2 separate regions of the Homo sapiens genome follow, and region 1 is linked to region 2. Evidence: fine-mapped expression QTL. A gene starts in region 2. The other region holds a variant in brackets. All regions are shown on one strand. Distances are between the middles of the regions. Region 1 overlaps SLC44A3 (solute carrier family 44 member 3). Region 2 holds the start of SLC44A3 (solute carrier family 44 member 3).

Evidence for each region. PIP is the estimated chance that this variant, and not a neighbour inherited with it, causes the effect.
Region 1: its variant is fine-mapped to the expression of SLC44A3 in lung (TOPMed, PIP above 0.99). The same link has a PIP of 0.9 or more in amygdala.

What each region holds. Positions count from the first base shown.
Region 1 is chr1:94,839,035-94,841,944 of GRCh38, reverse strand. SLC44A3 (solute carrier family 44 member 3) reads right to left here. Exons shown (of 15, transcript NM_001114106.3): 7 at 1,908-1,997. Among named protein-coding and RNA genes, the nearest start is that of SLC44A3, 20 kb to the right of the region's middle. The variant A/C (reference allele first, on the strand shown) is at 1,444.
Region 2 is chr1:94,818,782-94,821,691 of GRCh38, reverse strand. It overlaps SLC44A3 (solute carrier family 44 member 3), which reads right to left and starts at 1,335. Exons shown (of 15, transcript NM_001114106.3): 1 at 1,214-1,335; 2 at 636-743. The coding sequence starts at 1,240. It overlaps SLC44A3-AS1 (SLC44A3 antisense RNA 1), which reads left to right and starts at 1,460. Exons shown (of 6, transcript NR_160780.1): 1 at 1,460-1,736. RefSeq lists a silencer at 1,142-1,331.

The sequences.
Region 1 (2,910 bases), 20 kb before region 2:
CCAGCACACAGAATCACACAGGAAGTCCAGCCACTGCCCACCGGCCGCGTGGCACTGCTCTGGCAGTGGGTCCCAAATACCCGGACCCTACAAGCAACTGCTGCCCTCTGGAGAAGCTGGGCAGAGCCAGGGCAACCCATAGAGGACCCACAAGTTCTGGGATGATGCTTGTTTTGGGAGACCCAGGATGGTGACCCCAGAACACAGGCACCTAACCCACAGGTTGGGTCTGGATGCGAGCAGGAGGAAAACCCCATGGACAGGATGGTGAGAGGGACAATGCCAGAGCTCACTGTCTAAATGTTTTAAGCAAGCTCTGGTGGTGATAACTCCTGTGGAGCCTGGATATTGGCTGCTCACCCACAAAACCAGGAAAATTTACACGGCCTGTGGGAATCATGGAAGTCAGAAGCTCATTTGGAAGATGCCCTGACATTGCAAGTACTCCACATTTAGGTACGAAATACCACCTTATGCCATATCCACAGTAACTATAGGAAGGTTGGAGTGGACAGGAAGAAACAACCCTCAGAAGTCATTGTGCCTGTCCTCCGACACAGGGCTACAGGGCTCTAAGTTGCTGAGGGCAGAGCTGATGACTCAGGGGAAAGAAACATGACAATCACATCAGTTTTTAAAAATTAAAATATAGTCATCCACTGCATGATGACATTTTGATCAACAATGGACTGCATATATGATGGTGGTTCATGAGATTAATAATACTGTACTTTTCTGTGCTTAGATGTGTTTAGATACACAAATACTGACCATTCTGTTACAGCTGCCAACCGTATTCTGTACAGTAGCATGCTGTGCAGGTTCGTAGCCTAGGAGTAATAGGTTATACCATGTGCCTGGGTGTGTAGTAGGCTCTACCATCTAGGTTTGTGTAAGTGCACCCTGTGATGTTCACACAATGAGGAAATTGCTGAGTGATGCATTTCTCAGAACACATCCCTTCCTGTCATTAAGTGACACCTGATTGTACCCCACACCAGTTGGTAAATGGCTGCTGCCTTGAGCCTCCTGCGTGCCCTTGTCCCTCGGACCTCTTTCCCAACAACTGCTGGTGAGATCCACAATCCAGCAACCGGGAGGGAAATATGGGCACAGTACAGGGTCTCCAGGACTCTGCTTCCATGCAGGCCTGTGTGTCTTCTGGCTGGTCAGAACCTTTACATGACAACTGTGGGCACCCACGTGCCAATGGGTGAGGTGCGCATTCAGAAGAAATCCTTTAAAATGCTCCCAGTGGGTACTGGGATTCTCTTTTAACGTTATGGATACAGGATCACGGTATTGGAAAGCTCATCTCAGGGGCAGCATAGCACAGCAGAAGAAACTACAGATATGGCTGGACGTGGTGACTCATACCTGTAATCCCAGCACTTTGGGAGGCCAAGGTGGGCGGATCGCTTGAGCTCAGGAGTTGGAGACCAG[A/C]CTGGGCAACATGGCAAAACCCCGTCTCTACAAAAAATACAAAAATTAGCTGGGTGTAGTGGCATGTGCCTGTAATTCCAGCTACCTGGGGGGCTGAGACAGGGGGATCGCTTGAGCCCAGGAGGTTGAGGCTATAGTGAGCTGCGTTCGCGCCATTGCACTCCAGCCTGGGCAACAAAGTGAGAGCCTGCCTCAAAAAAAAAAAAAAAAAAAAAAAAGGAAAAAGAAAAAGAAAAGAAAAGAAAGAAGAAAAAAAAGATTGGTCATTAACTTTGCACTGTCTGTGAGACATAGCAACTCCCATCGTCCTCCCTGAGGCCAAGTTTTCTCATTTGTAAAGTGACAGGGCTAGATACTCTTTAAGACTCCATGTAGCTTAAAAATGCCAACTTTTAAGTTCTGTACTTAATGTAAAGGCTTTTCATTTAATCGAAAAGAAATCAGTCAAGTAGAGAAATACTTACACAACAATCCCAAAATAACCAATGAAATGAAAATGTGAACCAGAAGGGTGGTGATGAATCTGAAGGTAAACATCATGGCCAAAGACAAGGCTGAAAAATTAAGCAAAACACATAAACCTCAATAGCAACAAAGGATAGGGGAGATGATGGTAGTACTGCGATGACAAAACCCTCCAGAACAGTGACGGCTGAGGATTGTATTCAATCTCTAAATATCTTGGGATATCTACTAAACACTAAATAAAAATAACAAGGTATACGTGGGGCAGTCTCTGATGCACCATTCAATCAAGTGTGGTAAGCCTGTCTCTGAAAGTCCTAGTATTCTTCTCAAAAATAAAAAAAATTTGGCCGGGCATGGTGCCTCACACCTATAATCCCAGCACTTTGGGAGGCCGAGGCGGGTGGATCACCTGAGGTCAGGAGTTCGAGAACAGCCTGGCCAACCTGGCAAAACCCCATCTCTACTAAAAATACAAAAATTAGCCAGGCATGGTGGCGGGCACCTGTAATCCCAGCTACTCGGGAGGCTGAGGTACAAGAATCGCTTGAACCCGGGTGGCAGAGGTTGGCAGTGAGCCAAGATCATGGCACTGTACTCCAGCCTGGGCAACAGAGCAAGACTCTGTCTCAATAAAAAAAAAGAAAGAAAGAAAAAAAATTTTATAGCAATATTATTCTCAAATGCCCAAATCTTTTTTTCTTACAAGTCCAAATGAACCATCTAAAATTATCATACTTAAATCTTTTGACTTCATACTGGGCTTATGTAAAGTTCTAACTTTACATGTTCTAAGGTACTCTTATTAAATATGAAAGATTAATAATGTCTTTAAAATGAAGAATTTAAGATCCTAACCATGAAATAAGCTGTATGTACTATTTTCGACATAGGAAATCAGGATTGCATCTAGATCAGAGTTATGTTTAGTAAGGTGGGTTTTGGGACCACACAGATCTGGGTTTGAGTCTTAGTTCTGCCACCTCTTCTCCTAGGTGTGCA
Region 2 (2,910 bases):
TCTGCTGTTACCTACAATTCTAAAATAAGTATAAAAGCAGCAAGATTCGGCTTCCAACAGACTCTCTCAGGATTATAACCGCATAGCCTGATGGAGTTTACCAGCAATCATACATACCTCGAAATTAGAGTGGGAAAAATCATTCCTTGTTAGCTATGGTTAACAGTGTTGGCTGCTAAACACAACATATCTCTCGCGCGCGTGTGTGTGTGATGTTCAGCTAAAGGAAATGCAGTTTATTTCTAGGCTTACCCTGGCTTTTCCTTTGTTAAAGGTGCACCAAAAGCTTGAGGAATATTTGATTTGGGGGTGTGGCAGGTGCTAAAAGAACTTCTGTTCAGTAAGTTCGGAGAGTAAAAGGAGACACATTGGCCTTACTAAATAGCAATCACATTGCAAACTGTTAATTCCCATTTCCTAATGGAGTCACCCCTTAGAACATGGCCTGTAGCAAAAAGACAGCCTTTCTAGCGAGTCTAGGACAAGAATTCTCCCGAGTACAAACTGATGTTTATTGTGGGTTAACGGCAGAAGTCTCTCACTGCAGCACCAACTACGATTTACATTTGGGACAGAGTTATTTCCAGACGTGCACACACACTCTGGCCTCTTTCCTACCAAGCACCCACACTTACCAAACCAGTCCAAAAGAGAAAGAACAGGAATAACCATGCCGTATCTGTGCATTTCCTATAAATCTGGGGTCGCCACTCCCTTTGCCTAGGGGCTCCTTCTGCAGAAACCTTCCAGAAAAAGGGAGAGTTGAGAAAAAGAAGATAAACAGGTGGACTCAACCTGGAAACCGAACCCAAATCTACTCGAAGAGGGGCCAAAGTAACCAATCTTTTTCTAAATTTTTAAAATTAATATTATTTTTTTACGTGGCCACCTGAAGCTCTTTCACACAGCCTTTGAAACACCTGCTCTGCGCGGAGCGGATGTTAAGCCCCCTGCCGCCAAGTGCTTACCTGGAGGTGCACCTGAGGACGACCCCAAGTTTGCGCCCCGCGGCCCGCGTCTCCCCCGCCTCCGCCCCAGCACTGGAGCAGGGTCCAGGTTCCTCCCCGCCAGGTGGCCCCAAGGTACTAAGCGGGGGCGGGATCCCCGAGGCGCGGGAAAGGCGGAAGCGTCCGGCAGGGAAGGTGCGTGAAGGCGGGGGACTCGACCCTTCCCCGGGGCTCCTCCCCCGAGGGCCGAGGCTGCGAGCGCTTACCAGGTACTCGGCGCCCAGGCAGTGCATCGTGCGCTCGCCGGCGGGGGCCGGTGACTGGGAGCCGCCGCCGCCTCCTGTACGCGGAGACGCAGCGCCCGCGAGCCGGGGCCGGGGCCGGGGCTGGGGCTGGGGCTGGGGCTGGAGCCGGGGCCGGGCCGGGGAGGGGCGGGCACGGTGCAGCGCCGCCTCCCGTTCGCCTCTGCGCCTGGCCCGGCGACTGCGGGCGCTGCGGTCCACTGGGTCCGCCTCTTCCCGGCATGGGTTTCTGCCCAGCTCACCCGCTGTCAGCTGGGGTCCTGCTCTGGTGGGAGGAAGAGGCTCAGACGCTTCCCTGCCCTCTCGCCTCAACCACCTCGAGGCAGCGGCTCCCAGGATGTGCACTTTGACGACTAAAGCTGAGCCGGCGCCGCCACGACCTTGGGCGGGTGGTCGGCCTCTGCCCTGAGCAGGAAGTAGAAAGTCTCAGCAGACCCTTCCTGAGGGCCGAGCAACAGTGTAGTGGCGTATTCCACATAGCAAACAGGTAAGCAGCATTTACTGTGTGCTGGATTCTGTTCTCACTGCTATTGTTATTCCTAATCTACGGAGGAGGGAAACTGAGGCACGGCCATTGGTGATGCAACTTGTTCGAGGAGACCCAGTAAGTTGTGGAGGCAGGAGTCGAACCCAGACACTCCGGGAGACCGGCGCTCTCGAGGTGGTTTACTCTGACTTCTCTCCCACCTTGCCTTAGGACAATCATTGCCTGACTTCGCAATTGAAATGGTAGTGTCCACTGAAGCGACTGGTGGCATAGTTTTCCAGGTAGTGTCAGACCAGCGCAAAAGCACTGTTGGGGTGAGGAATTTAAAAAACGAAAAACAAAAAAAACTGCAGGCCGACCTCCCCCCACCTCCTCTCAATCAAGCCTCTACCCTTCCCCCTGCCACCCTTAGGGTTGCTAGGTTAATTGCTTCCTTTAGGTGCTGCTTCTCCCTAAGGGTAGAAACCTGACTGGAGGAAAGATCTGGGTAAGTGGGAGAAACTGGGAATGATAGACAGTGGTTCTCTGGTGCCAGCGATTTCCTTCTGGGCTCACACCACCCTCCCACTGCAAACTCACTGGGCCTTCCTGGATGCATGTTTATCAGACAGAGTAGGTGAAACCCCAGGGGAACATGAATTCATAGGACAAAGAATTAGACACTGGAGGAGTGCAACTACTGTTAAAAGACCACAACTGAATAACATATGCCATCTGAAACTGATCAGTAGAGCAGATGGACCAAGATTTTTAAATAAGCATGATAAATTTATTTAAAATGAGTTATGATATTAGCAATATGAATCAGGAAAAAATATGAAACTAAAACATATTAAGCATAAAAATAATAATTAGAATGAATATTGATGCTACGTATTAGTAATGTGCAATAGTCTAAAAGATGCAGCTGACGATGAATTAGTAATTGGAAGAGCACTTTCAGCAAACCTCCAGAGGCAGTAGAAAATGTTTTAAAAAACAAGTTAGCTTATTTGTAAATTTTCTAGCTTATATCTAGGGTAAAACTAGAACAGAAAGGAAGAAATATAAAAACAGAGAAGGGGAAATATTTGAAGATATAATGGAGATAAATTTCAAGGTAGAAAAAAACCTTCAGATTGAAAAGGTTTATCTCAAGCAAAATGTTTCTATATGTAAGTATTTAAAAGCATAA